Homo sapiens: one gene and its partners. Changing the gene in region 1 together with any one later gene gives a genetic interaction. Each region holds a gene or a part of one and is shown in the gene's direction. Other genes may lie near its edges.

Evidence for each region. Genes that interact genetically often act in the same process or in processes that back each other up.
Region 2: changes in TOP1 (region 1) and CHEK1 are lethal when combined (synthetic lethality), as found in Homo sapiens cells (one large-scale study listed by BioGRID).
Region 3: changes in TOP1 (region 1) and MAP3K4 are lethal when combined (synthetic lethality), as found in Homo sapiens cells (one large-scale study listed by BioGRID).
Region 4: changes in TOP1 (region 1) and PDGFRA together harm fitness more than expected from each alone (negative genetic interaction), as found in Homo sapiens cells (one large-scale study listed by BioGRID).

What each region holds. Positions count from the first base shown.
Region 1 is NC_000020.11:41,115,822-41,119,321, forward strand, and holds part of TOP1 (DNA topoisomerase 1), read left to right. Parts: intron 1-456; coding exon 457-571; intron 572-2,347; coding exon 2,348-2,475; intron 2,476-3,500. UniProt on the Homo sapiens protein: Releases the supercoiling and torsional tension of DNA introduced during the DNA replication and transcription by transiently cleaving and rejoining one strand of the DNA duplex.
Region 2 is NC_000011.10:125,628,163-125,631,662, forward strand, and holds part of CHEK1 (serine/threonine-protein kinase Chk1), read left to right. Parts: intron 1-1,069; coding exon 1,070-1,134; intron 1,135-1,228; coding exon 1,229-1,298; intron 1,299-3,500. UniProt on the Homo sapiens protein: Serine/threonine-protein kinase which is required for checkpoint-mediated cell cycle arrest and activation of DNA repair in response to the presence of DNA damage or unreplicated DNA.
Region 3 is NC_000006.12:160,994,769-160,998,268, forward strand, and holds part of MAP3K4 (mitogen-activated protein kinase kinase kinase 4), read left to right. Parts: intron 1-3,500. UniProt on the Homo sapiens protein: Component of a protein kinase signal transduction cascade. Activates the CSBP2, P38 and JNK MAPK pathways, but not the ERK pathway. Specifically phosphorylates and activates MAP2K4 and MAP2K6.
Region 4 is NC_000004.12:54,235,793-54,239,292, forward strand, and holds part of PDGFRA (platelet-derived growth factor receptor alpha isoform 1 precursor), read left to right. Parts: intron 1-3,500. UniProt on the Homo sapiens protein: Tyrosine-protein kinase that acts as a cell-surface receptor for PDGFA, PDGFB and PDGFC and plays an essential role in the regulation of embryonic development, cell proliferation, survival and chemotaxis.

The sequences.
Region 1 (3,500 bases):
GGCTTGGTGGCTTACGCCTGTTATCCCAGCACTTTGAGAGGTCAAGTAGGGCAGATCCCTTGAGGTCAGGAGTTTGAGACCAGCCTGGGCAACATGGCAAAACCATTATCCAGGTGTGGTAGTCCACACCTGTAGTCCCAGCTGCTTAGGAGCCTCAGAAGGATTGCATGAGCCCGGGAGGTGGAGGCAGCAGTGAACCGAGATTGTACCACTGCACTCCAGGCTGGGTGTCAGAGTGAGACCCTGTCATACACACACACAAAGATTGAAATACTTCATAGAGAGGCATCATGTAACCCTGTATTCTGGAATTCTTTTCCTCTTTCCCTAACTTCCCACTTGTAGGGCAATAAACTTGACAAGATTGTGACTGCACTGGCATAAATTACTCCTAGGGCTGCCAGAAGGAGCAGGTAGTATAGCTTTGACCTAAATCTGTTGCTTTGTCTCCTCCAGACTGGTATTCTGAATAAGCATCTTCAGGATCTCATGGAGGGCTTGACAGCCAAGGTATTCCGTACATACAATGCCTCCATCACGCTACAGCAGCAGCTAAAAGAACTGACAGCCCGTAAGTATTGCTTGGCCAGATAGGGCCCACACCCCTACTAATGGTATCCGGTGACCTTGCTTATCTAAGGCCTAGAGTCAGTTCTACTTTTTTTCCCTACCATTGTGGTCAGACACTTTTTCCCTTTAGACCTCTAGTAGCGAGATAATGCTTTGTTGTATAAACATAGGATCAATGCTGTTTCCCCCTTCCCACCCCAACTTCAAGATTAATTTCATGGAATGCTGACAGCTTTTCACCTGCTACAAAAATGCCTGCATTTGTGTTTTATACATATATTACTTAAAAGCCCACAGAGTGAAGACAGTGCTGTGATGTTCTGTTAAATTGGAGAGAGTAAAGTTGTCATGGTTACCAGAAAAATACAGGAACAAGTCCTTTCCTTGAGGTTTCTGTCATTTTTTTCCCATAAGAGAGTAGATACTTTCTATAGCTGATTTTTAGAATATTATCACCAAGATCCACGGGCTTTTTTTTTCCTGGAGCCCAGTCACTATTGAATTTCCACTGCCCTCTGTAAATACATCAGATGGCCTTAGAATATGAACCAGAAAAGCCAGAGGTAGGTATGTTGAGGGTCAGTATTTTAAGGTGGTATAAAGAATGCCACACTATACAAATAAAAACAATTTTTTTGGATGGCATTTTTAATTTTTCTTTTTAAATAAGATACTACCAGGCCATGTGCAGTGGCTCACACCTGTAATCCCAACACTTGGGTAGCCGAGGCAGGAGAATCACTTGAACCCAGGAGTTCCAGACCAGCCTGGGCAATGTAGTGAGACCTTGTCTCTACTAAAATTTCTAAAAATTAGGCAGGTGTGGCGGTGTGCACCTGTCATCCCAGCTACCTGGGAGGCTGAGCCCAGGAGTTTAGGGCTGTAATGAGCTACGACCATACCACCGCACTCCAGCTTGGGTGACAGGGTGAGACGCTATCTCTAAAATAATAATAATAACCATAATAATACTACCAACTGTGGCTTAATTTTTTTTTTTTTTTTTTTTTTTTTGAGACGGAGTCTTGCTGTCACCCAGGTTGGAGTGCAGTGGCGCGATCTCGGCTCACTGCAAGCTCCGCCTCCTGGGGTTCACGCCATTCTCCTGCCTCAGCCTCCCGAGTAGCTGGGACTACAGGTGCCCGCCATGTCGCCCGGCTAATTTTTTGTATTTTTAGTAGAGACAGGGTTCACCGTGTTAGCCAGGATGGTCTCGATCTCCTGACCTTGTGATCCGCCCGCCTCGGCCTCCCAAAGTGCTGGGATTACAGGTGTGAGCCACCGCGCCCGGCCAAAATTTTTAAACTTTTAACGTCCCTTCAATTCCTCGTTCTGTTCTGGCTACATTGGGTGGAGAGGTGGGGAGGTAGGAAGTGGCCAGTATAGAACTTATGAATATGGGCAACAAACCATAGTAATATCAGCAGCACCTATGATGAGCATATGGGTGGGGAGGAAGCAAGGAGATGAAGGGTCCCTAGCCAAGTTCCCTGAGTAAAAAGAAAGGTGTAGATTTTATTATATTACCTAGACTCAGAGTTCCTCTTGTGATAGGAATTTACCCAGGCCAAGCTTACATATAAACTTCCTACTATCATTTTCTTAAGACTGTTGACTCAAATTTTGACCTTAGTCCTTGGGGGCAATTTGAATTAATCATCTGAGTAAGATAAGAGCCAGCAAAATCATGGGGACGAGGCACTGGGGGAAGACATACTGTGTGTTCACTTTTGGTGTACAAACTGACCCTCTTGCTACCATGTTCCTTTCTTTACAGCGGATGAGAACATCCCAGCGAAGATCCTTTCTTATAACCGTGCCAATCGAGCTGTTGCAATTCTTTGTAACCATCAGAGGGCACCACCAAAAACTTTTGAGAAGTCTATGATGAACTTGCAAACTAAGGTATCTTGGATAAAATGAAGGGAACTGTGTCTGCTGTGGGCAGATTATCTGCGAATGAGAGGATTCAGGGCTGAGATATCAGCAGGCCAGTGCTGGGTCTGTTGTAGAAGGTCTATGCTAAAGATAAACAAATGGAAATATGATAGTAGTTAATCTCTGATCAAGATACTGAATATCAGAGTATCCATTATTCAAGAAATCTTTATTCTACGCATAGAAGTTCTATACTGGCCACTCCCTATTTTGAAAAACTAACTTTGGTGTACATTCTAATTGCTAATTACTGTCCTTATTGTACATGAGGAAAGTGGATTTAAAGAGAGTCTTCATAATTCCTTGCTACAGCCCAGAAATACAGCCATTTCCAAATTAGATTGTTTCAAATTGAAAAGATGATGAAACAATTATATATTTAAAGTCTTTCAAATCCTAGCATAGCTATTTTTATTTTTACGCATTCCACATGAATCATATTTTTATATAGTTCATCATCAAACATCTGTTGAATACTGGCCGTGTGCCAGACAACTTGCTGCCCTAAAGGGAAAGACTGGTGTGCAAATAGGTGCTATTCCTTGTCCCTGAGCCTCTTTCCTCCTCCTAACTCCGCCTGGTACTGAGCTTTTAAACCATAAGGCACTTAACATTTGATGATGAACATTTTTGTGTTAGCAGTGACTTCATAACTAATTCATCCTAACATGGTGGTCCACAGTGAGAATTTGCAGATATTTCATTATAGAACAGATACACAGGGTTAAAAAGGAAACAAATTATATTGAAATACAGTTATCAAAATACATTTTAAAGTCCGATAATAGATGTGCTTCCTTATTAAGGTCTTGAGGTGGCCTGTAGTAAATTTCAAGGTAGTAATTAATTAATATCAATGATACTTTAAGATTTCTGCAGCAATTCAAATATGAAATGAAGATGTCTAACATCTATTGATGATAAAGTCATAAGTGCTGCTGCTATTACTATGGTTTGTTCCCCATATTCATAACTGAAGAAGAAATACTAAA
Region 2 (3,500 bases), on another chromosome or scaffold:
TAGACATTCTAGTTACATGAAATCATTGTATACATTTTATACATTTACAGATCTAAAATAGCATGCTGTTTCCTCTTGGTTTACATGAAATAATTGAGAATTTTCTAGGATTGCTTTTTGTATATTAAGTAAATTCTATGTTTGCTATTAATACTTAAATATTCGATGTAGAATCAAAGGATTGATATTTCAGAACACTGAGAAGTACATAAAATCTGGATCTAAATTTATAATTTAAATTTATAATTTAAAGCTATTGTATTAAATAAGTTTATCAGTTAAAAACTGATAAAGAGGTATTAGGATCTCCAGTGTGACTCAGGAGAGAGTTGAGGGTAAAAGAAATGGAGTTAATGAGAGAGATCAAAATATAAAAAGATAACTGATAAAAGAACTTTCATAATAAAACTGTTTCACGAAGGACCTCACAGGCATTTGTGGTTTTGTACTGTGAGACTATATGAAGTTTAAATCTGAGCCAGGTGTGGTGGTACATGCCTGCAATCCTAGCTACTTAGGAGGCAGGAGGATTGCTTGAGCTCAAGAGTTCCAGGTTACAGTAAGTTATGATCTCACGCCAGGGCACTCCAGCCTGGGTGAAAGAACAAGACCGTATCTCTAAAAAAAGTTAAATTATAAAAGAAGTATAATCTGTAAAATATTTAGTGAAATTGGCTTAGATTTGCCCAGACTTCCCCTTTGGCATTATATTTCAGGAATGAGAAAAATAATTAGCATAGCATTTAGAAGAAATGGGGGGAATTTCAAGGTTACTAAATAAATCAGGGTTAGTATAAGAGGAAGCAGAGGCTTTGAAGTCATGGCTTGCATTCTTGATTTGGATATTGGTTTTCTCTTTATAATTTTTCTGTGATGACGCCTTTTGCCACCTAACACAGGTAAATGTGAGTTAAGCCCCATATGTGTTAGTGGACTCCTGAATCTTTTGTTGGCATTTGCTTCTGTTTGCCTAAGCACATTTGTAAATGTCTAAGCTTCAAATTAAGAAGCTATGTGGTTGCTACCTGATTATATTTAGTCAATAAACTTACTTTCATATTTGTTTTAGAGCCAGACATAGGCATGCCTGAACCAGATGCTCAGAGATTCTTCCATCAACTCATGGCAGGGGTGGTAGGTATAGTTGTCTATTTCCCTTTTACTTAAAATTAGAGTGAATACATTACATTACCAAATTCTAGTGTGTTTCTCTCTGCATCCCTCTTAGGTTTATCTGCATGGTATTGGAATAACTCACAGGGATATTAAACCAGAAAATCTTCTGTTGGATGAAAGGGGTAAGTTTAGCATTTTATCACTACCTAAAATAAAATAAAATAATTACCTAAATTATTTTAATTACCTAATTATTTTAATATAGCCATACAAGGCAAAATCAAGTCTTTTTGCATTACTGGAATTTCAAGACAAGATCTGAAAAATCAAGGAAATTTTGGAGACTTCGTATATTTGGAAATCACAAGTCTCATTTTGCAATACAAGTGCGGATCAGGTAGAGAAATCTGACCTAGGTGCAAGCCTAGCTCACTATATGTATAAGAATAATTTTTTTTTTTTTGATACAGGCTCACTGTGTTGTCCAGTCTGGGGTGCACTGTATTATCACAGTTCACTGCAGCCTTGACCTCCTAGGCTCAAGCAATCCTACCATCTCAGCTTCCCGAGTAGCTAGGACCAACCACAGGCAGGTGCCACCATGCCTGGCTAATTTTTGATTTTTTGAAGAGGTGGAGTCTTCCTGTGTTGCTCAGGCTAGTCTTGAACTCCTGGACTCAAGCAGTTTACCAGCCTTAGCCTCCCAGAGTGTTGGGATTATAGACGTGAGCCACCATGCCTGGCCAAGAATAGTTTAAAATAATCCTTTAATGGATTAATAAAGGGAAGTTCCTGTGGAATACCCTGGACCTTAGTCTTGTCCTGTTCACTCTTTTTTTATGTATGACGTGGATAAAAATGTAAGAAATTTAGTTATATTTTCTGAATGTCATCAAATTGAGAAGGATGGATAGCGAAAGCTTTAAGCTTACAGGGTCAGAATCAAAAAAGAAATGTCAGCTGTATGAGGCAGTAGTTTTTGTCTGGTTTAATGCTTTATTCTTAGTATTAGAATAGTGCTTAACAAATGGTCAGCTTTTTTTTTTTTTTGAAACAGAGTCTTGCTGTGTTGCCCAGGCTGGAGTGTAGTGACATGATCTCGGCTCACTGTAACCTCTACCTCTCTGGTTCAGGTGATTCTTGTGCCTTAGGCCCCTGAGTAGCTGGGATTACAAGCCTGAGTCACCACACCTGGCTCATTTTTATATTTTTAGTAGAGATGGGGTTTTGTCATATTGGCCAGGCTGGTCTCGAGCTCCTGGCCTCAAGTGATCTGCCTCCCTTGGCCTCCCAGAGTGCTGGGATTATAGGTGTGAGCCGCTGTACCCAGCCTATACATGCTTTTTTCTTATGTGCATATGGATTTTACTTTTTACCCCTTTAAACTGAGTTTATATGACATAAAAATCTTTATTTTTATTTAAAACTTTAAAAATTCAGGTACACAAAAATTCTTATGTATTATAATGAAATGTAAATATATGTATATCAACCCACCTGGTTTAAAAATACAACATTATTCGTATATAAGAATGCTCACAGTGGTGATGTTTTTAATATAGCAGGAAACTAACCCAAATGTCTGTCAACAATAAATTATGAAATGCATGGCTTTTCAAGCCATGTCACAAGCAGTGACACAAGCATGTCACAAGCAGTGACATGGATGAATTTCAGGTATATAATGATGTAGAGCAAAAAGAGACAGTTGCAAAAGAATTCATATGGTCTGATTCTGTTTATACAAAGTTCAAAAATATGTAAAACCTAGTATATTGTTCAAGTATGTAAACATGGAGAAAAAAACATGCAGAAAAGCAAGGGTATAATAAAACCAAATTCAGAATGGTCTAAGAAAGTAGGGGAGGGAATGTATTTAAGGAAGTATTTAAAGATTTCAAAGGAAATAGAGCATTGTTTTTCTAAAGTGAGTGGGTGTTTATTACATTGTTATTCTTTATATCTTGTATTAATATACAAGATATAATTCTTTGTTTCTATTTAATATTTAGGAGTCTTTTAAAAAAAGAAATAAAATGTTACCAGTATTTAATGTCCTCCTGTTTATTTCATCACAAATATATTCTTCCTTTGTTTTTCTAAGAGCTAAACACATTCCTACATTTAAATTTTATTATGTGCAGTTCTCTAACATAGCTGAGTATTATGTTGCAGACATAACAAAGTCCAAGGAATACTATAGTTATCCATTAGTATTTTAAGTGATTACTACTCATAAGTAATTTGAAACTCAATCTCAGTGGTTTGTCCAATAGTGTCATATTTAACTACTGAAAAGATAATCAACTGGGTGCAGTAGCTCATGCCTGTAATCCCAGAGGCTGAGGTGGGACGATTGAGTGATTCTAGGAGTTTGAGACCAG
Region 3 (3,500 bases), on another chromosome or scaffold:
CAGCTCGCTGCAACCTCTGCCTCCCGAGTTCGAGCAATTCTCCTGCCTCAGCCTCCCGGGTAGCTGGGATTATAGGTGCCTGCCACCAGGTCCAGCTCATTTTTGTATTTTTAGTAGAGACAAGGTTTCACCAAGTTGGTCAGGCTTGTCTTGAACTCCTGACCTCGTGATCCGCCCATCTTGGCCTCCCAAAGTGTTGGGATTACAGGCGTGAGCCACTGCGCCTGGCCAGTTTTTTAAGGAATCTCCATATTGTTTTCCACAGTAGTTGTACTAGTTTACATTCCCACCAGCAGTGTATAAGAGTTCCCTTCTCACCACATCCATGCCATTGTCTATTTTTTTAATTATTATTTTTAAATTATGGCCATTCTTGCAGGAGTAAGGTGGTATCTCATTGTGGTTTTAATTTGCATTTCCCTGATAATTAGTGATGTTGAGCATTTTTTCTTATGTTTGTTGAAAATGTGTGAAATGCCACCTTTTAATACATTGGAAACCAATAATGTGATAATTTATGCTACCAGGTTAACTGGTTTTGCCACAGACTAGAATAAAACTCTGTTTGCCATCTTTGTCACATACTTTATGTCTGTGTGTCATTGATTAGGAAGGTTGTGTTAATGCACAGGCCTTTTGTAGAATTCAGGCCTGTACATGTTGGCCTCCAAAGCTGTGCAGCAAGTGTGCCATCGTGGCAGGTGCAGCCAGCCCAGCACATCTGCCTAGTGTGTGCTTTCCTCCTGACCCAAGAGTGTTATGCAGTGACCCAGCAACACAAAACAGGCAGAGAGGTCATAGTACTCTATTCCAGTTTTATTGCTTGCTGTCAGTTGTGGATACTTTTGTCCTTATTTTTGATAAAGAATTCATGATAAGGATAGCTGTTGTTATTGTTAGTGATTAAATTTTGAAATAAACATTGCTTATCATTTCTTTTTCAAGCTTCTGGGGCAGTTTTAGGAGGATCCTGAGGTGACTAGGAGAGCTATTAAAACTAATTTGGAACAATTTACCTTTGTGACTTATTGGATCTGTACACCTAAAACACAGAATAAATTGGATATTAAGGCTGATATAATGCTCTTGTTTACTATAACCTTTCATTTAAAATATTTATATTAAAAATAGCCTCATTGTTCTCATTGTCCTTATGAGTACATGCTGCATAAATTTAACAATTAACTTTTTTTAAAAAATGAATTATTTACTTTATATATTTATTGTAAATTCATTTGAAAAACTGGATTTCCTACTAAAAAACTAGTTGAATGTCGTCACTCCTAGGCAATTTGCTCTGCCTCTCGGCTTGAATGTCCACCTTGAGCCTGTGTGTTTCAGTCTTGACCTTGTATGTCAACTGTTCTCCCTGGCAAAGTCAGCCTCCTGTGGTGCTCCAGACTGTTGGTGTAGCATCAGTGATGGTCATGCCTTTACACCACTGTAACAGTAGATGCCATTGGCGGGGGTGGCGTTAGGCAGAGAGGAGTCACCAAACAGCAGTGATGGCAGAAACTTCATGTTTTCAACTGGGGACTTGTCACTTAGGAGGACTTTGTAGTTCCCTTTAATTTTCTGTCATTGTTAGAGGCCACTCTGTTTCCTTCATGTATGCTCTCATGGTGTCCTGCAAATCTTGTTCTGAGCTCTGCTGAAATACGGGGATATAAAGGTCTTGCCTGCTCACTGGATACATTTGTTGTAATAACTTCCTGTTATTTAATAATTCCTCATTCCTCATGACTATGATTTTACTCATAGCATTCTATTGTCTCAGCCTTGTCATTTGACCAGGTAGTATGTATGCTGTTTGAAGACTCTTTAACGTTGCCTATCAGTAGGCTACTGGTAGTGGTTTCTTTAAAGAGAAAATGGAAAACGTGAGAGAAGGAGATTAGCTGAAGACTCCGTAGGTCTTCATAAGCTGGCACTCCCTTGGCACGATAATCAAGGCCCAGACACTCACTGTGCTTGGCTTCTCAGGCACAGATACTCAGCTTTGTCTGTACACCTGGTTAGTCAGTGTATTCTCTTGCTTGTAGAAAGCCAAAGTATAATTAAGAGATTGATTAGTAAGCATGATATTAGCAAGGGAAATGAGTTGAATGATCCCGGTGACTCATGTTAGCAGACCAGTGAGGTGGGCTTGCATCCCTAGCAGGTGCACCCCTGCTTCTGAATGAGAGGCAGTGTGATCCAGACTTACTCTTAGGTTTTTATTTTCTAGGCATCACACAGGCTGCTTTTTTCCCTTGTGTCACAAACTTTCCTAAATTGTTTGGGTTATAGTATGTTTGTTTTAATCTTCAGTCTTTATAACAAACCTTGCTTTTCCTGCTTTAATTTGGGAGTATATTTTATCCTTCTCACTTTAAGATTTCTTTTTTTAAACCTCAGTGGTACGGTACATTTTTACTAATGGTGAGTCTCAGAGGATCACCTTATTGTCTCCATCCCCCACCCAGTATTCTCCCCATAATCTCTGTCCCACCACCCCTCGCCAAGAATCCTTTAGCATAGTTTCTCAGAACAATGTGGCAAAGATGTCAGTGGTTGGTGCTTTCATAAAATTCTTTTTGAATATTGTGTTCAAAAAGGATCATGATGGTATCTGGCTTTTCTGGATTTAAGTCATAAAATTAAATTTTAAAAAATCAGAACCACATCAGAATTCTATCCAGTTATTAAAAACTGTTTTTAAATAGTGTTTAGTGACATGTGAAGATGCTCATGATACAACTCCTTTTGGGGTGGTACCTGAGTAGCTCTTCTTAAGAAGATTCTCAAGTATTTCTGATGTATACATACTCACCGCTGTGTTCAGCAAGAACAAACAGACTATGAAACAGAATTTGCAGAAGATGGGAGCCAAAATTTGAGGTAGTTTTTCATCTCATACACATATTTGTCCACCGGCTGTGTCTGCCCTACTTCACTGTCTTCCTTCTACCTTATTTGGGGGAATTCCTCTCTTGACTCAAACTACATGGTACATATTGGAGCTGCCCTCTTCTTACAGATGCCAGGCCATAGGCATGACACTTGACCCAGTCCAGGCCAATTAGGATTCTTTCCTGGGATTTTTCAAATTGGAGCTGGGAGAGAGAAACGCGCATTTTACTGAAGTATAGGCTGAGAATTCATGAGCCTAGAGCTAGCTTCCTGAAGCTCCTACAGAGGACCTGGTCTCAGAGAGTGATGTTAATCCCCAGAGAAAAGCAGAGAGGCTGAAAGAGGTCTATGGCCAGTTGCCTTTAAAATAAATAAATAAATAAAAATAAATAAAGAGATGGCAGTCTCTGTATGTTACCCAGGCTGGATTCAAACTTCTGGTCTCAAAGAATTCTTTTGCCTTGGCCTCCCAAGTAGGTGGTACTACAGGTGCGCACCACCACACTGTCAGCCAGTTGCCCTTTTGTGCTAGATTTGTCCCTATTTTTCTCCTGATTTGATGTGAGCTAATCTCTATTTGTGCTTAAACTATTAATTTGAGTTAAACT
Region 4 (3,500 bases), on another chromosome or scaffold:
AAAATCAAAGCACTTTCAATTAAACTATATAATTTAGTCCTTACAAGAATGCCACAGGGCAAGCAACCAGTCAGGCCTTGGTAGTCGTGCTTCCTAGAAGAAAAGACTGAGGTTCAGAGAGTTGGATAGAGTATCAGATTTGGGATCAGTGGCTAGTCCAATGTGATTTCCATCCTTTCTTCTGAGAGAAAGCATAAGAAGGCCAAGAGGATGGTGGAAAAGCACAAGTCACCTGCCTGAGAGTCAACAGGGCGGGGGGTCTCTTTCTCAGTTTGTTCCTCTAAGTTATGGCAAATGTTTTTTGAGCTGTGATTATTGAGAATGGGGGCTGAAGTTCAACATGTAGTTGGCATGAGGGAAGTAATTATGATTGAAGAAAAGATTTGGGTGAAATCTAGTGTTCTTCCCTGCAAAGGGGGTTGTTCTCACGGATTCTTATGGTGCCATGTTTCTCAGAATTTGTAGTTTCAGTTACTTATATTTGCACACCTGACTTTAGATGAGCTCCAGAATAGCAGTTACTAATTAAGGATGAGCATTTAGAGTAGATAAAAGTGGCAGGAACAGCAAGACTCACTCCCAGAGAGCCTCACTACAGGTCTAATAGGTGAGGAAATTCCCCATGTTTCCCATTTTTCTTCATTACCTCCCTGTGGGGCAAGCACTGCCATTATTCATGAGTAAACTGTCTGAGTTATAGATAAGTAATGACATGAAACTTCACAAACACGCTGAGCACAGTGGCTCACGCCTGTAATCCCAGCACTTTGGGAAGCCGACGTGGGTGAATCACGAGGTCAGGAGTTCGAGATCAGCCTGACCAACATGGTGAAACCCTGTCTGTACTAAAAATACAAGAAATTAGCTGGCCATGATGGTGGGCACCTGTAATACCAGCTACTCGGGAGGCTGAGACAGGAGAATCGCTTGAACTTGGGAGGCAGAGGTTGCAATGAGCTGAGATCATGCCACTGCACTCCAGCCCAGGCGGCAGTGCAAGACTCCATCTAAAAAAAGAAAAAGAAAGAAAGAAAAAAGAAAAAAAGAAAGTTCACAAACAGGCCTGATTTCTACCCAGGGAACCACTGTTATCAGAGATTGGGGTTTGGAATCTTAAGCAACAAACACATGTTTATTCTCTTCCTTCCTGATGGCTTGCTCAGAGGACCTGTTTCCATTGCCCACTTTTTTTTTGAGACAGAATCTTGCTCTGTCACCCAGGCTGGAGTGCAGTGGCGAGATCCTGGCTCACTGCAACCTCTGCCTACTGGGTTGAAGCCATTCTCCTGCCTCAGCCTCCCGAGTAGCTGGGATTATAGGTACCTGCCGCCATGCCTGGCTAATTTTTTGTATTTTTAGTAGAGATGGGGTTTCATCATGTCGGCCAGGATGGTCTTGAACTCCTGACCTCAAGTGATCTGCCCACCTCAGCCTTCCAAAGTGTTGGGATTACAGATGTGAGCCACCACGCCCGGCCTCATTGGCCACTTTATATGTCAGTAAATAATCTTTCCTGGCAGAGGGTCCACTGTATCTGGAGGCACTGAAGGAAATCTGGGAGTGTCTGGCCAGGGCAAAGCACTGCTTAGAGCTTGCACAGGAAAAGCAGTGAGCCCTTCTTTTAAGCTGGAGAAAGCTTTAAAGATGCATCTTTGGCAAGTCTTGCCAAAGAAATATGGGTTCTAAATGTGATAAAACCAAAGACATCAAGCTGGCTCTGGAGGCCTTGTTTGAAGTTTGCTGAGTGGATTGTCAGTGGGAGGCTGATATTTATATGTACAAACACACAAGCATTACTGCTAATTGTGGTAAATCAGGCTGGCCAGCCTGGCTCTGGGGCCCACTGTGCCTGCCACCGCAGCAGTGTGGAAGCCTTGCATCCCAGGCACATGTCAGGATCCTCGGAGGCCATCAGCCAGCCAGCATTGTGTGAATTGCATTTGGGTTCACAGCACTGTAATTGTGTTTCTCCTGCTGTGGTGAGCAAAGGAGGAAAATGGAAGGAGGAGGTATAATTTGCCCTAGGAAATAGTCAGGCAAGTAGGTGGCACACAGGGGTGGGATATGGCTAAAACACTGACCTTCCCTTGAGAGAGACCATATGGTGAAGTGGAGAGGGCATGGCGTTTGTATCACACGACCTTGTGTTCAAATCCTGGCTCTGTCACTGGCTGTGTGACTTTGGGTCATTTGCAAAACCTCTCTGAGCCTCAACTGCCACTTCTTAAAATCAGCTCTAAGTAATCACAGGGTTATTCTTCACAAACACAGCATGCACATGCAAACTTTGGCTTAGTAAATAATGGTTTCTCCTTCTCTTACTTTGTTTTCTACATACCCCACTCCCCTTCCTGTGAGGAGCCTTCCACCTTTTTCTCTGTGTTCTCTTCCTCTCCCATTTTCCTGGTAGCATTCAATAAAACAGAAATCTGATTTCTGCAAAGTAGGCCACCTTACGGTAGAAATACATGATTAGGCCCCACCAAAAACTTTGATTAGGCTATTATCTTCTGGATCCTGGATCCCCTCCAACCAAACCAAACCCAACTAGGGCTAAACACAGCAATATATGAATACATTGAATTTCTCTCTCACTCTTTCTTTTTTTTAAACCAGTTTACTCAGGAATCACATGCACACATATTTTAGCTTCCAAAGCCAATGATGGAACAAATTGTGTCCCATTAGGCTCACTCCATTGTATGAGTTAGCATCAGAGGAGTTCATACCAGAGTGACTTCATCTTGAATAGGGCCTAGGTAAGAAGAGGATGAGACCTGCTGGGCTGCATTCCCAGGAGGTTACACATTTGTAGTCACAGGAGAGAAAGGAGTTGGTATAGGAGTTGATAGATACAGGTCATAAAGACCCCAGTGATAAAACAGGTTGCAGGCCAGGTTTGGTGGCTCATTCCTGTAATCATAGTACTTTGGGAGGCCAAGGCAGGAAGATTGCTTGAGCCCAGGATTTCAAGATGAGCCTGGACAACATAGTGAGACCTTGTCTCTACAAACAATAATTTTAAAAACATGAGCTGGGCATGATGGTGCAGGCCTATAGTCCCAGCTACTGGTCTGAGGGGCAGTTGGGTGGCAGGCTGAGATGGGAGGATGGAGGCTGCGGTGAGCTGAGATCAGGCCACTGCACTCCAGCCTGGGTGATGGAATAAGACCCTGTCTCAAAAATAGATAAATAAATAAATAAATAAGCCAGCAAAACCAGAATGCAGTGAAGAAGCTGGCCAAAACCCACCAAAACGAAGATGGTGATGAAAGTGACCTCTGGTCATCCCTACTGCTTATTACACACTAATTATAATGCATTAGCATGTTAAAAGACACTCCCACCAGTGCCATGGCAGTTTACAAATGCCATAGCAATGACCAGAGATACTCTATATGGTCTAAAAAGGGGAGGAACCCTCAGTCCTGGGAATTACCTGTCCCTTTCAGGGAAAACTCATGAATCTTCTACCGCTTGTTGAGCGTATAATCAAGAAA